Regions from separate parts of the Homo sapiens genome. Here regions 1, 2 and 4 are each linked to region 3. The links come from fine-mapping of genetic effects on gene expression. A gene starts in region 3. Each other region holds a variant in brackets. All regions are shown on one strand. Distances are between the middles of the regions. Region 1 overlaps PEDS1-UBE2V1 (PEDS1-UBE2V1 readthrough). Region 2 overlaps PELATON (plaque enriched lncRNA in atherosclerotic and inflammatory bowel macrophage regulation). Region 3 holds the start of PELATON (plaque enriched lncRNA in atherosclerotic and inflammatory bowel macrophage regulation). Region 4 holds the start of LINC01270 (long intergenic non-protein coding RNA 1270).

What was found. PIP is the estimated chance that this variant, and not a neighbour inherited with it, causes the effect.
Region 1: its variant is fine-mapped to the expression of PELATON in whole blood (TOPMed, PIP above 0.99).
Region 2: its variant is fine-mapped to the expression of PELATON in whole blood (INTERVAL, PIP above 0.99).
Region 4: its variant is fine-mapped to the expression of PELATON in whole blood (TOPMed, PIP above 0.99).

What each region holds. Positions count from the first base shown.
Region 1 is chr20:50,089,930-50,094,742 of GRCh38, forward strand. All of the region lies in intron 6 of PEDS1-UBE2V1 (PEDS1-UBE2V1 readthrough), which reads right to left. All of the region lies in intron 2 of UBE2V1 (ubiquitin conjugating enzyme E2 V1), which reads right to left. Among named protein-coding and RNA genes, the nearest start is that of UBE2V1, 21 kb to the right of the region's middle. The variant A/G (reference allele first, on the strand shown) is at 2,129.
Region 2 is chr20:50,275,860-50,280,672 of GRCh38, forward strand. It overlaps PELATON (plaque enriched lncRNA in atherosclerotic and inflammatory bowel macrophage regulation), which reads left to right. Exons shown (of 4, transcript NR_170992.1): 3 at 1,632-1,754; 4 at 2,318-3,929. Among named protein-coding and RNA genes, the nearest start is that of PELATON, 11 kb to the left of the region's middle. RefSeq lists enhancers at 1,613-2,150, 3,153-3,447. The variant G/T (reference allele first, on the strand shown) is at 2,318.
Region 3 is chr20:50,264,914-50,269,726 of GRCh38, forward strand. PELATON (plaque enriched lncRNA in atherosclerotic and inflammatory bowel macrophage regulation) reads left to right here and starts at 2,565. Exons shown (of 4, transcript NR_170992.1): 1 at 2,565-2,750.
Region 4 is chr20:50,288,410-50,293,222 of GRCh38, forward strand. It overlaps LINC01270 (long intergenic non-protein coding RNA 1270), which reads left to right and starts at 4,311. Exons shown (of 5, transcript NR_034124.1): 1 at 4,311-4,421. RefSeq lists an enhancer at 3,864-4,600. The variant C/T (reference allele first, on the strand shown) is at 2,949.

The DNA.
Region 1 (4,813 bases), 170 kb before region 3:
CAAGAGCTGGTTCTGGGCTTCAGTGTCTTTTGCACTCCCCCAACCAGGCTTGCCCCTGCCCCGCAGGTGCCAGCAGCAGCAGAGGGGGCACCTTTTCCCCAAGTGCCAGGTTCTGACAGCCCAAGCTTCCTCTGCTGGCCTCCCAAACCCAGAGGGTGGTTACTGTTTCTGCAGCAGTATCTCTGTGTTCTCATATTGTGCCTTCTTTGATTTTTTAGTCCAACATCTATTTGATCAACTTCCTATATTAAATTATCTCTGTTGCCTAGTATTGGGTATCAATCCAAAGGAAATTAAATCAGTATCTCAAAGAGATCATCTGCACTTCCACACTCATTGCAGTTATTCACAATAGCCAATATATGGAAACAACTTAAATGTCCTAGAGAAAATATGGCATATATCACACAATGAAATATTATTCAGCCATAAATAAGAAATCCTGCCAGTCGGAGAATTGCTTGAACCTGGGAGGCGGGGGCTGCAGTGAGCCGAGATGGCGCCACTGCACTCCAGCCTGGGCAACAGTGCGAGACTCTGTCTCAAAAAAAAAAAAAAAAAGAAATCTTGCTAGTCATGACAACATAGATGAGCCTGAAGGACATTATGCTAAGTGAAATCAGCCAGACACAGAAAGACAAAAAGTGTATGATCTCAATTATACATGGAATCTAAAAGTAGAACTCACAGAAGCAGAGAACAGAACAGTGGTTGACAGGGACCAGGGTGTAAGGGGAGATACTGGTCAAAGGGCACAAACTTTCAGTTATGAGTAAGTTCTGGGAATCTAATGTAAAGCATGGTGACTACAGTTAATAATACTGGATTGTTTACTTGAAATTTGGTAAAAGAGTAGATCTTAAGTGTCCTTACCACAGACACACAAGGTAGCTACACGTGGTGATGGATGCGTTGATTAATTTGGTTGTGGTAATCATTACACAATGTATATCAAATCATCACACTGTATACCTTGGATATATACAGCTTTTATTTATCAATTACATCTCAATAAAGCTGGGAAAAAAATTAGCTGGTATGATTTCTCTTTTCCTGACTGACACAGAGTTAAAGCGGGACTAAGTTAACCTCTTATTCTATATACTCTGTATTGTTGGAAAAAAAATTTTTTTTGAGACAAGAGTCTCACTCTGTCACCCAGGTTGGAGTCCAGTGGTATGATCTTGGCCCACTGAAACCTCTGCCTCCTGGGTTCAAGCGATTCTCCCTCCTCAGCCTCTTGAGTAGCTGGGACTACAGGCGTGCATCACTACGCCCAGCTAATTTTTGTATTTTTAGTAGAGATGGGGTTTCAACATGTTGGCCAGGCTGGTCTCGACTCCTGACCTCAAGTGATTCACCTGCCTCGGCCTCCCAAAGCGCTGGGATTACAGGCGTGAATCACCACACCTGGGCTTTTGTCATTAAAAATTTTTACAAGAATATATTCATATTCATTAATCAGTCATATAACTTAAGGCTTTTTTTTTTTTTTTTTTGAGATGGAGTCTCGCTCTTGTTGCAAGCAGTGGCGCGATCTCGGCTTACTGCAACCTCTACCTCCCAGGTTCAAGTGATTCTCCTGCCTCAGCCTCCTGAGTCAGGCATCTGCCACCGCGCCCAGCTAATTTTTATACTTTTTTAGTAGCGACCGGGTTTCGCCATATTGGCCAGGCTGGTCTTGAACTCCTGACCTCAGGTGATCTGCCCGCCTTGGCCTCCCAAAGTGCTGGAATTACAGGCGTGAGTTACCACGCCCCGCCTCAAAGCTTTTAAAAAAGAGATCAGTCAATATGCACTGATATAGAAAGATGTCCACCATCTATTAGGTGAAAAAAAATTAAGTTGTAAAACATTATGCATAGGAAGATCCCATTTTTCTTAAAAAGATATATATTTACGTTTGCATACCCACAGCAAAAGTGGGTAGAACCACACCACACACCAACTTAAGTTTCATTCGATGGTGAGCATAATGAATCAGAGAAAGGATCACTTTTCTTTTACTTCCTACACCCCTGTAATTATGTTCAGTTCCTCTGAAGCATGGGTACCAGTACTCCAGGGTATAAACACACATCCAGGCTCTAATCCACACATAAAACACTTGGCCGGGTGTGGTGGGCTC[A/G]TGCCTGTAATCCCAGCACTTTGAGAGACCAAGGTGGGCGGATCACCTGAGGTCAGGAGTCTGAGACCAGCCTGGCCAACACGGCAAAAACCTGTCTCTACTAAAAATATAAAAATTAGCCGGGTGTGGTGGTATGTGCCTATAACCCCAGCGACTAGGGAGGCTGAGGCAGGAGAATCGCTTGAACCCGGGAGACAGAGACTGCCGTGAGCTGAAATCACGCCACTGCACTCCACCCTGGGCAACAGAATAAGACTCCATCTCAAAAAAACAGAAAAAACACTATTTTGGAGAACCCCAGAGGCTCAACAGTGCTCCTCGATGAGGGCCATTTTTGCCCCTCTGCTGGGAAGGGGAAGGGAGGATCAAGCGTTGCCTAGACACATTTATGGTTGCTGCAATGGAGACGGGGGTACTGCTGGCTTCTAGTGAGTAGAGGCCAGGGATGCTGCTAAACAGCCTACAACGCACATACCTAGCACTCTCATGACAAAGAAAAGAACCAGCCCTACATGCCACGTCTGAGAAACTCTGCTCTATATAACTTGACTATTGTTAGTACTTCTGTGGTCAAAGTAGAAATATTCCATGTCTAACGCTGTGGACAGCTAGACATTTGCCAGAATTGTGCAAGGAGCAGTTGGCTCAGAAGCTTTGTTTTTAGGTTTGGAGGATTTGCTTTTCTTTAAATAAACAAACAAACAAAAAAGGTGGGGGCACTATTCAAACAGCACACACATATGACTAAAACATTCAAAGAGTACAGAAGGGTATATGGTAAAAAGTAAGTTTCCTTTCCACTCCAGCCCTAGCCAGCCAGCTCCCTTCTGAAGAAGACAACCACTGTCAGCAGCTTCTTTCCCATTCCTCCAGAGGTATTCTAAGCACACAGAAGCAGTGTATGCATGAGCTCTTCCTCTGCACCCAAGGCCCCCCACTCCAACTGGCAGCATACTCTGTCTCCTGTTTTATAATTTACTTTTTCACAATATCATGGAGATCATTCCATTTCAGCACACATAAATCTGTCTCATTGTTCAACAGCTAAACAGGACATAATATGGTATACTCAAAGACAATGATGTTGTTTCCAATATTTTGCTACTACTGACAATGCTGCATGAAATAATTTTGTACACTGCCTTTGGGCAATACATTCAAGAGAAATTGGAAAGTAAATTCCTAGAAGAATTCCTGGATCACATGGTATAGACCTTTGAAATTTTGATGGAAAATGTTCTTTTGAGTAAAACAATAACAAAAACCTAATAGGGAGATGAGTTACTCAAGTGCTCTATTTAGATGCTTTAATAATTATGTGGATATTCGAGTTACACAGCAAATAGCTCATGTGCTAATCATGAAAGATTGGTCACAGGAAGCATCTACACACAGATAGTTCCTTTTATGACTTAGTTTCTGACCTTGGGGAACCAGGATAATAAAAACTACAAGGGTGAAAAGACAATAACAAGTGTTGGTGAGAATGTGGAGAAATGGGAACTTTCGGGCATTGCTAGTAGGAATGTAAAATGGTGCAGCCACTTTGGGAAACAGTTTGGCATTTCCTCCAAATGTTAAACACAGTTACCATATGATCCAGCAATTCCACTCCTAGGTATACACCCAGGGGAATTCAAAAATGTATCTCCGGCAGGGCGCGATGGCTCACACCTGTAATTCCAGCACTTTGGGAGGCCGAGGTGGGTAGATCATGAGGTCAGGAGTTCAAGACCAGCCTGGCTAAGATGGTGAAACCCCGTCTCTACTAAAAATACAAAATTAGCTGGGCGTGGTGGCGGGTACCTGTAATCCCAGCTACTCGGGAGGCTGAGGCAGAGAATTGCTTGAATCCGGGAGGTGGAGGTTGCAGTGAGCCGAGATTGCGCCACTGCACTCCAGCCTGGGAGACAGAGCGAGACTCCAACTCAAAAAAAAAAAAAAAAAAAAAAAAATAATAATAATAATAATAATAAAATATATATATATAAAATATATTATGTATGTTATATATATAATATATATAGGCTTGGAGGATTTGCTTTTATTTAAATAAAAATATATTATATATTATAATTATATATCTTATATATAATTATATGTAATATATATTACATATCATATATGTTATATAAATATACAGTATATATAATATATAACATATGCATTATATAATATATAATGCATTATATAATATATAATGCATTATATAATATATAATGCATTATATAATATATAATTATATATAATATATGTCCATCTTCAAAGGAGGAAAAATTAGGTAGCTAAAAACAACTATGTCCATCTATTCCAGCAGGTGTAGATAAAAAAATAAAAAGAAAATATATGTCCACATACAAACCTGTATATAAATGTTCCTAGAAGCATTATTTATAATAGCCAAAAGGTAGAAACAACCCAAATGTTCATCAACAAATGGAAAAACAAAATATGGCGTATCTGTACAATGGAATATTATTCAGCCATAAGAAGAATAAAAGTATTGATAGATGCTACAATATGCTTGAACCTTGAAAAAATTATGCTGAGTAAAGGAAGCCAGTCACAAAAGGCCACATACTGTAGAATTCCATTTATAATAGATGTTCAGAAAAAGCAAATTCATTGAGCTAGAAAGTAGACTGATGATTGTCAAAGATGGGAAATGGGGGATGTGGGAGGGAG
Region 2 (4,813 bases), 11 kb after region 3:
GCAAGTGAGAGACCCCTGCCAGTAGAGGTGGGGTCTGTTTGTCCCCCCACTCAGCTTCCTTGCTTCTGGCTCAGGGGACAGTGGGAAGGTACTTTCTGCGAGTTGTCCCAGAGGCCTCTAGGGGGTTGGGCTCCTGTTGCCCACTGAGGAGACCTGCTCATCTACCTTCCTTGTGTCACTTCCTCACTCCTTCCCAGTGTTTCTAGAATCACCTCCCAAATATCCCACTTGCACCCAAAACCTTGTCTTGGGTCAGCTTCTGGGAGCCGACCTAAGCCAGCAGCTATAATGCTCAGGGCTTAAGAGCTTTGGAATCAGATGGACCTGAGTGTGAATCCCGCCCCTGCCACTTAACCTGAGTGTGAACTTGGGAGCCTGCCCCACCTCTCGGAACCTCAGTTCCTCCATCTATGAAAAGGGAACTTACGTGCAGAAAACCAAGTGACTATGAGGGGGATGGGGCAGTGTGAGATGACGGGACCAGAGCACGTTCCTGGCTGCAGAGGCCACAAGTCACGCTGTCTCTGAGAGGTATGGGGACAGGGGCGCAGAGGAAGAATGATCGCGAGTCCTCAGCCCTGTTTGGCTGACGGGGGACAGGGATGGGTGGGAAAGAGGTACAGCGTTTTTCCACCTTCCCCACCCATCACCCCTGAGATTCCAAATGAACATCGGGACCAACCCCGGGAGCCCAGCGGATGTTCAGGGTAGGGCAAAGAACAGGTGCCAAGTTTGCTCCCTGGGGTGTGAGACTGGGCAGCCTCAAGAGCTGCATTGGTAGGACTTTCACCAGGTAGACAGCAGGCACCTCGCCCCTGCAGATCACAGCTTCCAGGGCCACCTGTCCACAGAATCCCTTCACTGATCTGTGCTTGAGGCAGGGGTGTGTGGACTGGGAGTCCTTCTTTTACTCTGGGTGGGGCCTCATGCTCAGAGGGAGCTCTGTCTACCCCCACCACAAACCTGCAGTTTCCCTGCTACAGCGATGGCAACCTCAGCCACCTGGCTGCCCAGGCCCCCAACCTGGGTTCTCCCTCTTGTTCCCATGGTCAGCCCATCAGCAAACTCATCCACATGTCCAAGGGTCCACCCCCACTACCCTGCCCTGCCCTGGTCCAGCTAGGATGTTTGCAGTCGTCTCCTCATTGGTCTCCCTGCCTCCTCTCTCGCCTTCCTAAGCCAGAGGAATTCTGTAAGAGCTCAAGTTAGATCCTATCCCTTCTCTGCTCAGAACCCTCTATGGCTCCCAACTCACTCAGAGCAGAAGCCCACAGGGCCTGCAGGATCTCTGCCCTGGCCCCGCCTGACCTCACTGCCTCTCCCTTCTCTGTTCACCCACAGCCACGGTGGCCTCATCTCTCTGCCATAAACTTGCCAATTATCCTGCTGCTGCCTCATTGACTTCGCACCCACTCTTCCCTCTGGAACAGAGGACACTCTCGCCAGCTCTCCCCATGGCGGATCCTTGTCTAGGGTCAGGCCTCTGCTCCAAAGTCACCCCTGGGGACACCTTCTCTGACCAGCCCCTCATTCCTATGGCCTCATGCTGTTTTTATTTCTTCCTAGGACTTAGCACGTATCCTAGAAATTAACCTGCTGGTATATCCTGTTTCTTGTCTGTCTCTTTCCAGTGGAATGTCACCATCGCCCAGGTGGGGATTTTTGTGTGTTTTGTTCACTGCTGTACACCCAGCCCCCAGCACAGCGCCTGTCCAGGACAAGTGCCCAGTAAACACTTGGGAAGCAATGCAAGCGTGCGTGCATGGATAAGTATTTCTTTGGCAGATGAGGGGGCTAAGGTTCAGAGAAGGCCCTGGGGGTCTCAGACTCATAGCCCAGTGCTCTTTCTGCTGACACGCCCTGGTCTCTGGGGCAGTTTGTTGCCTGTTCAGCAACAAAGAGGGTGTGCCTCGTTAGGGGTCCTGCGTGCGAATCGCAGTCCCTGCGTGTCTTGGCTGGAGGTCACCACCCTCTCTGCTCCAGGGCCTGTAATTACCACTTACCCTGGTCAATGGGTCCGAGAGATTACCCTTGTAGGCAGGGCTGTGGCCAGGGTGCTCACCTGGCCCCCAGCAGGTCCCATGGGCACTGTCTGGCCGGGCTTCATGGCTGACATTCCAGGTACATTTCTAGCCCTGGGCTGCCATGGGCAGAGGGTGGGGAGAGGGTCGTGGGCTTCAGGCTGGACAAACCAGTCAGCCTTCCCAGCTGGGCCGCCTGACCACCCACTTCCTGTGGGGCTCCTTGAGGCCTGGAGGGTGGAGGGGGTCTCTGTTCAACCCCCACCCATGCCCTCTTCCCTTCTCTCCCTCGGCAG[G/T]TCCTCCCAGCAGCTCCTGCAAACAGACCCCCGACCCAAGCCCTTCCTTCTGCCTCCACTGCCACCACTGCTGCTCATCTCTGCTGGCACAGAAGTCTCTTCCCTGGTCTTCCAGAAATCCCCTCTCCACACTCAGCCAGAGGGAGCTATTAAAACTGTGGGCCAGCCCACATCAGTCCACAGCAAAGTCCTCTCTAAGGGATCTCTGTTGCTTGGAGAATAAACCCTCGGATTCCTTCCTTGGCTCTCGGGGCCTCCTCTCTGACCTCCCTCTGTCTCCTCTCCCAGCCTTCCTCCTCACTCACCCTCCAGCCATGCTGGCTTCCTCCTTGCTCCTGAAACAGCCTGAGGCCCACACTGCCCCGGGCCCTTTGCACTGGCTGTTTCCTCTGCCTGGAACACTTCTCCTAGGCATCCACAGGGCTCCCTCCCACAACTCCTTCGGGTGCCCACATGGGAAGCCATCCCTGACCACCCCCCCGACTTCCTTCTGAGCAAGGTAGGGTCTTTCTACCTAGTCATGAGGGCAGGGATTTTTGTCTGTTGTGTTCTCTGTGTGCCCCCAGTGCCATCCCAGTGCCTGGCAGATGGTAAGTGCTCGACACACATTGGCTGACTGCCTGAATGAACAACTCTATGAGCCGATGGCAGATAAGGACACTGAGGTCCTCTGGGGTAGGTGACCAGCCCAAGGCCACACAGCTGGTCTGAGATTAGGCCAGGAGAGGAGCCCGGGTTGGTCACATCCTGGAGTTGGCGTCTTGGAAACTGCATCAGGAGAATAACAAAGATGAGACGCAGGCTCTAACAAGTGGATACCAGTGACTCTCGCCCCGCCAGCCCCAGCCCTGCAGCCTTGGGCCCTTCCAGGAGTCATGGTCTGCCTGCCTGGGGCATTCCAGGCTTCGACCCAGGTCCTGCACTTTCTATTTTGAGCCTCTTAGTCCTGAGGACTGTGTGTTCCCAGCAGGCGGCGCGGGCCAGAGGCTGAGCCTGGGTGTGGCTGTCACCCTATCTGGGGCCAGAGACCCAGATTCCCGGGCCCTTAACCTGTTGGCTGCTGAGGGCTCTGGCATAAGCCCTGTTCCCTGCTTGATTGTCTCCCCTTCAAGCCCCTGCCCTGGTATCGTATCGGCCCATCTCACCTTGGATTATATCCCTGTTTGGCCCCATTTGAATCCTGGCTCTGCCCCTTTCCAGCAATGTGACCTTGGGCAAGTCACTTCATCTCTCTGGGTCTCAGTTTCTTCATCTGGGAAATGGGGACAATAAGAGTACCTGTCTCTGGCCATGTGTGGTGACTCATGCCTGTAACCCCAGCGCTTTGGGAAGCCGAGGCGAGAGAATTGCTTGAGACCAGGAGTTTGAGATCAGCCCTGGGCAACATAGTGAGACCCCTGTCTCTACAAAATTCTAAAAAAATTAGCCGGGTGTGGTGGTGTGTGCCTGTAGTCCCAGCTATTCTAGAGGCTGAGGCGGGAGGATTGCTTGAGCCCAGGAGTTTGAGGCTGCAGTGAGCTATGATTATGCCCCTGCACATCAGCCTGGGTGATAGATTGAGGCCCCATCTCTAAAAATAACAATACTAATAATAAATAAAAATGAAAATGAGTACCTGTCTTCTGGGGTTGCAGAGGAGATTCAATGTGATGAAATTGATGAGAGTGCCCTGCAGGGAGCCGGAAACTCAGGGAGCATCGATAATGAGTCCCCCACCATCAGCAGCTGGCTTAAATATAAAAACTGTCATGGCCTCTGGAGAAATGACAAGAATTCGAAGGAGCTTCCCTGCACTGGCCACCCTACACCCTACACCCTTACTTCCTCCCCTCAACTTGCCTGGATTTATCGACCCCCACTACCCCACTGGTTGCCTTCTCTCCACCTGGCACATTTCGTATGAATTTGCTTGTTGGTTCTTGCCTATCTCCCCAGTAGAACATTAGCTCCTTCAGGACAGGGACTTTTGTCTACCTTATGCACCTAGTGCAATGCCTGGCACACAGTCGGTGCTTAATAAATGTTTCTTAAAAGAACCAATAAATGAATAGTGACCTCTCCGGGGAGAGGAGCCCTGAGCTCACCTCCTGCCCCCAGCCCAGGGCTCTTAGGTGCTTGTTGGTGTCAGGCCCAGGCCCCCCTCTCATCAAGCAGCCAATAAAACTGCCCTGGTTGGCGTTCTCATTTCACAGATGGAGAGACTGAGCCCAGAGAGGGAGAGTCACCTGTCTGATGTCACACAGAGGTCAGCATCTGGGCTGGGATTCCAGCCCAGGACCATGTGGGGTGGGGGGCAGTGGATCAATCTTTTCCTGGAGGGAGTCAATGGTGATGGTGGGAATGGGTCAGGGGTGCTGGCAAGGAGGGTCCAAGGCCCCCAGGAGGGAGGGAGGCATGGGAGATGAGTTTGTCCCTCTTGAGTTCTGTCTCTCTCTGTGTCTCTCTGTTTCTGCCTCTTTCTGTCTCCTTGTATTTCTCAGTCCCTGTCTTCGTCTA
Region 3 (4,813 bases):
TCCCCTGTGACACCTCCTGGGGGCCGGATCCCCAGCGGGAGGAGGGATGAGGCCTGGGGGGCCTGGCTCTGGCACAATGCAGAGCATTGAGCTCATGCCAGCCTTGGCTTTGGGTTTGGACAAATACAGTAATCTGGGCAGGACTCACACAAAGACCTGGGGGCCAGGTCAGGCGAGGGGCGTCAGGTTACCCCTGTGGGCTGCAGCCACACAGGCGGCTTGGGGGGTGTATTTTTTTTCCCTAAAGATTATCATTAAATGAGCCCTCACCGAGGCCTCAGCAGGCAGGTTTCATTACAGGAAAAACTGAGGTATAGGGGTTTGCAGGCCTAACGGGACACGCTGTCACTGTGATAGGAACAGCATTAGCAATAATAACAGCTGTCCTTCCGGACTGGTTCCCAAGGGCTAGGCCCTAGGTGAATAATAAGCCTTTTCTCGATCCTTTCTGCAGCCCGAGAGGAAAGCCCCATGCTATCCCCATTTCATAGATGGGAAAACTGAGGCTTGAGGACACTTTGCGGCCTCCAAGGGCTGTTCTCTTCATTCCTCCAGCAGAGTGGATATGAGACGGTGCAGGGTCTGGAATGTCTGGGCAGAAGGAAGAGCTGGAGCAAAGGCCTGGAGGCTGGAGAGCGCTGTCGGGGGGCAAGTGGGGCAGTGTCCCACTGCGGGGTTTCATCTCAGCTCTGCCATGTCTTGGCTACGTGACCTCTGACACCCTACTGGGCCTCTTTGATCCCAGACTCACCTGTAGAATGGGTGTGTGAGAAGAAAACCTTCTGGAGCGGGGTGTTGAGGAGAGAACAGTGCCTGACACATCATAATAATAATGCTGAATAGATGTTATTTTCATTCCTAACCACTTCCTCCAGGAAGCCCATCCTGACCTCTAGCTCCCAAAGTCACCTGGACTTCCTCCATCACAGACCTTGCCACAGTGTGAGAAACTGCCTCATCCACACACCAGCTTCTCACCTCCACCCAGACCCTCTGATTGGGACTCCCCTGAAGACTGTGTCCCCAGAGCCCAGAAAGAGTCCAGCACAGAGCAGCTGAGGGGGCAGGTGCTGGTGAACAGTGTCAATGAGCCCCTGCTACTCACCAAGCCCTTCACACACGGGTCCTTCATTTAATGTCTTTCTTCTCCTAGATAGAACCTTGGCTTTGCCAAGACCGGTATAGTTGCTGCTCAAGAAATATGTGAGGAAATTGTTGAGATGAACCAGCACTCAGGGGAAGGGAGGCTTTCTGAGGCTGGGGCCTTAGCAGGTGGAGCTCCTGGGATAATAATAATAAGAAAGATGCCTGGACGCGGTGACTCACACCTGGAATCCCAGCAATTTGGGAGGCTAAGGCAGGCAGATCACTTCAGGCCAGGAGTTCAAGACCAGCCTGGTCAACATGGTGAAACCTGGTCTCTACTAAAAATACAAAAAATTAGCTGGGCCTGGTGGTGTGAGCCTATAGTCCTAGCTTCTCGGGAGGCTGAGGCTGGAGGGTCAATGATTGAACCTGGGAGGTGGAGCTTGTAGTGAGCCGAGATCGCGCCACTGCCACTGCACTCCAGGCTGGGCAACACAGTGAGACTCTGCCTCCAAAAAGAAAGACAACAATAATCATTAGTCTTTACTCTGCTCCAGGCACCAGGCTGAGTCTTCTCAGTTCATCTCCCCAGCAGATTAGTTCTATTATTGTTTCCATTTCACAGATGGGAAAATCAAGGCACAGGGAGGGGAGGTGGCTTACTCCAGGTCACACAGTTAGTGAGAGGCAGAGGCAGGATCAAAGCCAAGCCTGTTTGACTGAGGAGCCCGCCCCGAGACCTTAACCACACAACCCCTCCCTAGAAGGAAGGTGCCACTACTGGACACATTTTGGAGATGGAAACCAAGGCTAAGAGAGTCAGGATGGCCTGCCCATGTCTGGACACAGAAACTGAGGTTAAGCAGGAGATGCCCGAGGCGGGGTCCCTGTCTCCTAGGCCAGCACCCTGAAGAAGGGGTGGGAGACAACCCCCCACCCCCCAAGCTGTCCCCTGCTTGTTGGAGTTTCTGGTCAATACCCTGGCCTCTGTTACCCAGCCCAGCACCCAAGACGCTGCCTCTTCCGCCTGCCTGGAGTCTCGGGTGCCTTCACAATCGGATTCTCTGTCTCTGCAGCTGCTTTCCATTTGAGCCCTTTGTGCTGAAAATAAAAAAAATGAAAAGAAAACTTGGCACCACCCCTCTGCTTTGCTTCCTGGGGAGGAAGGAGGATCCCAGCTACTTCTTTCCCTCATTCTGGGGCCCAGAGATACCCACAGCCTGCCCGAGGTCACACAGCAGGGTTGGAGCCGGGACCCTGGCCTTAGACTCCCCTTCCAGTGCTCTACCCACTCTGGCCACTGCCTCTGATGTTCCTGGCTCTTCCTCTAGGCCCGTGAGGAGCAGAGAAATTAGGATGAATGTTCCCGAGCCCTACCACATGCTGGGCACTCTGCCATCCTGGGCTCACGAAACCCTCATGACAGCCCTGTGAGGTCCCGTCATCCCATTTAACCAACAAGGAAGCTGAGGCTCAGAGAGGGGAAGCGCCCAAGGTCACACAGCTGGGATGTGGCAGAGCTGGGGTTCCAGCTCCTGTTCCCATTGCTGGACAGCTGCCACATCTGGCACCCAATTTAGGACCCCGCGGGGAGGCCCAAGCCCCGGGGGTGGCGGGGGATCCTAGAGGAAAGTGGCAAGGCCAGGACCCTGGAGCAGAGCCAGGTAGGAACAATGGGTTCTCAGAGACCAAGGTGGCAGGGCGGGGCGGCTGCTGAGCAGGGGCGGCAGGGCGAGGTGGCGGGCGGGGCCCAGGAGACTTCATGCTCCCGCCTCCTACTCCAGCTCCCTGTTTGGGATCTGGGGACGCTCCAAGCACCTCAGCTTCTCAACCTGGACAGACCCACGGCTCCAGCAGGAGGCAGGGCCAGCCCTGTGTATAACCATAAATATAATGGGCAATAATCAGATTTCACGCTTACCGAGCCCTACTACAGGCCAGACACTGGGTCAAGGGTCCTTCCTGGGTCATCACAATCAGCCTAGGAGGTGCAATTAGGATTAGTGGCTTTTTACAGATGCGGAAACAGAGGTCCAGGGAGCTACTCAGCACCTGCTGTGCCAGGACAAAGAACTTTGGGAAGTGGGGCCCTCAGAGGGTGGGTACCCTGTTCCCAGAGGCAGGAAAGTTGAGGTGGACTGGACTCAGTGGGGCTCAGTGGGACACCGTGGGGAGTCAGTGCTCTCTGGGGGCGAGATGAATTAGAGGGAGCCCTTTTGGTTTTTTAGAATCTGAACATGGGGCGGGGGAAGCAGAGATGTGGGGAGCAGATGAAGCCTCCCTGGCACTGCTGGGAGGATTAAAGGACTTGATGGACACCCAGGGCTTGGAAATGTACCTGGTAGAGAGTAGGTGCTCAGGGAACAACTCCTGTTTGCAGAAACAGCAACTCACACTTAGGGAGCCTGCTGTGCATCTGAACCCCGTGCTTGGGTGTTTCTGACCCCCTTCCAGCTCTCATCCCTCCTCTCTCCATTTTCTCCCCTGTCTCAGGTTCATTCCTATGTTTCCTCTTGCCCCAATTAGGCCATCTTCTATGACTGCAACAGTAAAAATATTAATTAAATCTTATAACATGAAGTCTAACGTGGGGCCATTCCAGTGTTCCAGGGCAGGCTCCCTGCGCTCTAGGTAGGCATCTCTTCACTTCTCTTTCTTCATGGGCCCCAGTGCCTGCTGTGGCTCAAGACATCACGTCCCACATGATCACATCCTAACTAGGAAGAGATGAACAGAAAAGGGGACTTTCTCCTCCAGGATCTCACTTTTTTTTTTTTTTTTTTTTTTGAGACAGAGTCTTGCTCTGTTGCCCAGGCTGGAGTGCAATGGCACGATCTCGGCTTACTGCAACCTCCGCCTCCTGGGTTCAAGCGATTCTCCTACCTCAGCCTCCCACATAGCTGGGATTACAGGCGTGGGCCACCACTCCCAGCTAATTTTTTGTATTTTTAGTAGAGATGAATTTTCACCATGTTGGCCAGGCTGGTCTCAAACTCCTGACTTCAGGTGATCCACCCACCTCAGCCTCCCAAAAGTGCTAGGATTACAGGCGTGAGCCACCGTGCCCAGCCAACAATTTTTCTTACATGTCCCAGTGGATGTCCCCTGGTGTCTCATGGAATGATGGGCTCACATGTCCACATTTGAACCAGAAAGGAATTCCCGTGGCTGACTCAGGCCAATTAGGGTTCAGCCTGTCTGGCTGCTCCAAAGAGATGTGGGCTCCGAAGGTGATGGGGGCACGGCTGGGCTGGCCACCAGCTGGAGTCTCACTGACGGCCTAAGTGGCACAGTGGGCCTGGGTTTGCTCGGCCTTCTCTGGCTGGTCCTCTTGGCAGCGTCTGCCCCCTGGGTAACTGCCCCCTCCTTGAGCACAGTCTTCCCCAGCCTCTTGATGGCGGCTTGCTGGTCTCGCTGGTTCTCCTCTTACTTCCCTGCCCGTTCCTCCTTGGGCCTTGAAAACGACCCCTCTCCTGCCTTCATCTGACCCTTGCCCCGTGAGCTCAGCTGTGCGGGGTCCCTCGTGCCTTTATGCGGGCTCTGTCAGTCTGTCCATGGGTGTCCCAGGGGCGCACCCCACTGGGAGACATGGATGTCTTTCCCAGCTGAGAAGACAGCACTGCCACCCACCCAGTGGGCCAGGCCTCAGACCCCAGAGTTGTCCTTAACTCCTCTCTCTCTAACCCCAACATTCAATCCTCAGCAAATTCCATCGGCTCTGCCTGTG
Region 4 (4,813 bases), 23 kb after region 3:
GGAGGAGGAGGAGTTTGAATTTTATTGCAAGTGAGGCGGGAGCATTGGAGGGCTCTGGGCACAGGAGGGAGATGGCCTGACTCAGGTTCTAACACCAGGTTCCTCAGCTTCGGCACCATTAACATTTGGGGCTGGATGCTGCTCTGTAGTGGGGTCGTCTTGTGCAGTGTAGGATGTTAAGCAGCGTCCCCGGCCTCTGCCCACTGGAGAGGTTGCCAGTCGCACCTCCTCCCCAAACCCAGCTGTGACAACTAAAATTATTTCCAGACATTGCGGAATGTGTCCTGGGTGCAGGATCTCTCTGGCTGCAAATGGGGCAAGTGGACTGTGGGGGGCCAGGATGTTGTGATGAGAGCAGAGAACCCAGCAGAGATGACTCCCCTAGTCTAGGACAAAAGGAGGGCGATGGCAGCAGAGGTGGGAGAAGGGACTGGATTCTGTTTGGAAGGCAAAGCCAGCAGGATTTGTTGGATTGGGCGAGGGAGATGTTGGAGTGGATAGGTGGATGCAGGCGCTATCGTTTGCTGAGATGGGGAACTGGTTTGAGGGGCCAACTTCATAGGTCTAGGGCAGGGCCCAGAACCTGGCGTGGTCACAACCTGGCCTCAGGGGGTGCTGAGTTTTTCACACTGTGCTTCAAAGAATTTAAGTGTCCAGAGGATGTACACTGGGGAAGGGTCTCTTCTACCGGTGCAGATGGGAACAAGTGGGCAGGCGGCCTTTCCTTGCCAGCAGACCAGGAGACTCTAAGATGCTTTTTCAAGGGAGTCAGAGGATCAGCCTCATTGGAGGACTGGTTCCAAAAGGCAGCCTCACAGCCAGGCGCGATAGCTCATGCCTGTAATCCCAGCACTCTGGGAGGCTGAGATGGGAGGATTGTGTGAGCCTAAGAGTTAGAGACTAGCCTGGGCAACATGGCGAAACCCTGTCTCTAAAAGAAAATAAATAAATAATAATAAAAATTAGAATAAAATAAAAGAAGGGATTCTGAGACTGAAAAAAGCCAAACTCAGGTGCTGCCAGGGCTGGGCAAGCAGCACTCATGGTGAAGTGGTGGGAGAGGGGTGCAGGCCTGTCTAAAGGGGTGGACGCTGCTCAGTTTCTGCCAGTGTCGCCCCGTGGGAAGCCGGGACTGACAGTTTTTCATGAGAAGCTGTAAATCTAGATCGGGGTGTCCAACCTTTTGGCTTCCCTGGGCCACACATAAAATACACTAACACTAACGATAGCTGATGAGCTAAAAAGAAAAAATCGCAAACAAAATCTCATGTTTTAAGAAACATTATGAATTTGTGTGGGGCCGTATTCATAGCCATCCTGGGCCACATGTGGCCTGTTGTTCGCGGGTTGGACAAGCTTGATCTAGATTGCTATATGAAACCTGTTGATATTTAAATGTTAGGGCAAATATCAGGCCAGGTTTGGCCTGAAGGCCGTGAGTTTGAGGCCTCTGTGATACTGCAGCCCTTCTATTTTGCAGGTAAGGAGCTGGCGGGGAGAGTTAGCACAGCTGCCTCCGAGCCTGGCAGATGGTCCTGGATCGGGGCTGGACGGGGTGACTTGGAGAGGTGGTGCTTGGACTCAACTGTGAAGAAGGGTCAGATTCCCACAAAAAAGAGGAGAGGGCATTGCAGGGGGCGGAGGAGTGTGAGCGAGCATGTGTGGCGGGAATATGGAAGACTGTTTTCCAGGTGGAGGGAGGTAAGAAGACGGGGAACTGGAAAAAGAGTTGAAGGAGACGGGTTGATGAGGATGATGGGGAATACACGGACACGGAAGGTCAGACTGGACCCAAAAGAGGGTTGGAAAAATCACCCAAACACTTCAATAATATTAGTAACTTCACTTCTGAAATTGTGTGGCAACAAGCAGCGCGTTTATTTTACCACTTACTTCGGGTTCTTGGCAACCCTGCGTACACCAGGGAACGCTTGCCCAACAAGAAACATTCTCACTCGCAGATTGTTTACAAACGCCTCGAAAATTTTTGTAATATTTTTGTAAATATTAAATTAGAAATTTAATATAGAATTATAAAGTGTGAGTGGGTTAATTAAAGATTTTAAAATTTCAACTTAGCAGGTTTTTCTTTTTCTTTTTTTTGAGACAGGGTCGCGCCTAGCAGGCTGGAGTGCAGTGGTACAATCTCAGCTCACTGCAACCTCCACATCCCGGGTTCAAGTGATTCTCCCACATCGGCCTCCTGAGTAGCTGGGACTACAGGCATGCACCACCACACCTGGCTAAGTTTTGTATTTTTTGATAGAGACAGGGTTTCACCATGTTGGCCAGGCTGGTCTCCAACTCCTGACTGCAAGTGATCCACCTGCCTCGGCCTCCCAAAGTGCTGGGATTACAGTAGTGAGCCACCACACCTGGCCAGCAGATTTCTTTAAGTATTTTAGAGGCAATATTTTTTCCCCAAAATCTCCCTTGTGCAAATTTTCTACCTCACAGCTGCCAAAATTTGAGGTGGTGGACAAAAATAGTTGATATATAATGATAGAAAGACGTAAGTGAGGTATATATATAGAGAGAGTCTAGAAAGAGTTCGCTTTCAAAGGGGAGGATCAGGGCAGTCTCCCTGGAGGAGGAGGTTTTGAATACGTGCGTTGAAGGGTGGGTGAAATCCAGACCAGGCAGGTGGGTTAGGGAAAGTGAGGGCATGCCGGGTGAAGGGCCCTGTGTGTGCACAAGGGTGAGGTGGGAATGATGAGTGTGAGAGTTTGTACCAAGGGGGCTGGGGCTGGGGTGCCAAGAACCAAAGAGCCATGATAAGGCCTGTCTGGGGCTCAGCCAAACTGGGGAGTAGTACACGAGAAGAGGAATGGGGAGCCCTAGAGGGTTTTAAGTAGGGGAGGAACGTGGAGTCCATAGCAAGGCAGAGTGGCTGGTGGGGAGGTGGGGAGGATGCCATGGCAACCATTCACGCCAAGCCTCAGCCCCGA[C/T]CCTCAAGGAGGCAGGCAAGGCTGAGCTTCCCTTTCCAGATTGTTTGTGGGTGCAAAAGGGCAGCAAAGAATGTGGGTGCCTTGTCCTTCTGCCCATGGTCTAGTGTCCTTCCCCTCACCCCAGTCCCAGTGGAGCCATCATAGGTGAAATATAAGAACAAGTCACCTGCGTTCAGTGGCTGCAGAATACCTGGCCTCGCACAGAAGGCTGCGGGGATTTCTGCTCATTCATTCTTCCCACCTGCCGCATGAGGGAGGTGCTATGTCCATTTTACAGAGGACACTGAGTCCCAGAGAGGCTAAGCGGCATGCCCGAGGTTACACAGCCAAGAAGGGGCACAGCAAGATTCAACCCAAAAGTCTGCACTCCAGCCACTGCCCTATCATGACACTCACGAGCTCCCACCAAGTCTGGCTCCAGTGTTTCCAGTACCATAATCATCCCCATTTACCAGATGGGTAAACTGAGGCTCTGAGAGGTGGAGTCACTTGCCTGAGGCCATACAGCAGGAAGGGTAAAAGTAAAGATTTGAATCCCTGGGTCTAGTCGACTCTGGAGCCTGCTGTTCTCCCACCATACACCTCAGCTGCTCGCCCTCCTGGGCATCTGTTTCCTCATCTGATGAACAGGGGTGACGGCGATGCCTCCCTGGCAAGGTCCGCAGAGGATCCCGGGTGGTGTATGTCAATCACCCAGCTCAGTGCCTGGCACTCAGTGGATGCTTTAAACGTGATGCCTGTGTTTATTCGTATAAAGGTGGCTGAATATTAAATGGGTGGATTTATGGAAGGCACTTATGGTAATGCCCTGTACATAATAGATGCTCAAGAAACACTAGAAGCAGTTACTATGATTATAGGATCGACCACAGGGGACAGCCCAGTAACCCCTCAAAGTTGCTTCCTTCCCAAGTTGCCTTCCATTTATTTCTCCCTTCATCCAACACACTGGCCTTAGGGTCCAGGTTAGGATTTGGGGGCTTGGGGGGCTTAGGTTACAATTTGAGGTGATTTGTCCCCCCCTGCCCATCAGTCAGAGTGATGCTGAGAGCACTGGATGATAAGACCAGAATTCTAGGTCCGCGCCCCGGACCTGCTGTGTGATCTCTGGCAACTGCCTTGCCCTCTCTGGGCCTTGGTTTCTCCTTTCATCTGCAGAGCCTGGGCCAGGCTGCCCTGGGAGGTGCCAGCCCCGAATGGGGCCGGGGGCAGTTCCTGTGTCCCCTTGGCCACCAGCCTCCATCTCCTGCCTCTTGAGCTGCAGGCCCGCCCGGCTCAGCTGTGACGACGAACCAGCCAATCTGTTTACTGAACTGGCTGACCCCTTCCGGGAACTCGGCCCAAGCTTCCCAGAACTCGGGTATTAATGACCCGGAGCCACATGACGGAGCATGACACAGCACTTTTGGGCACAAGGCAGGGCCCAGAGGGGTGCGTGGGGGCCGCAGCCCAGCCCCCAAGCCCCGCCAGCGGGTGAGTCACCTGGGCCCCCTGCAGCTTCCTGATCCCGGCCACTCAGCTGTCCTCCCCACCCCCAGGATATCCCCAGTTGTCAGGGCTGCCCTGGGACCCCTCGACCTTTGCACTAGGGACTTAGCAGCCGTCTTGGGTGATCAGGGCTGCCTTCTGGGATTACAGATGGGGACAGTGAGGCCTGCAGGACTGGAGTGAATGAACAGTGAGCTCTGAGTAAACGTCCACTGTGCGGGAGGCACTGTGCAAATACGTCACGTTAGTCTCGCAGCGATGCAACACAGTGGCGTAGTTTAATCCCCATATGATAGATGGGGAAACTGAGGCTCAGAGCGGGAATGAATTCTCCCAAGGGCATGCAACAAGAGCACTCTGTTTGACTGGAAATAATT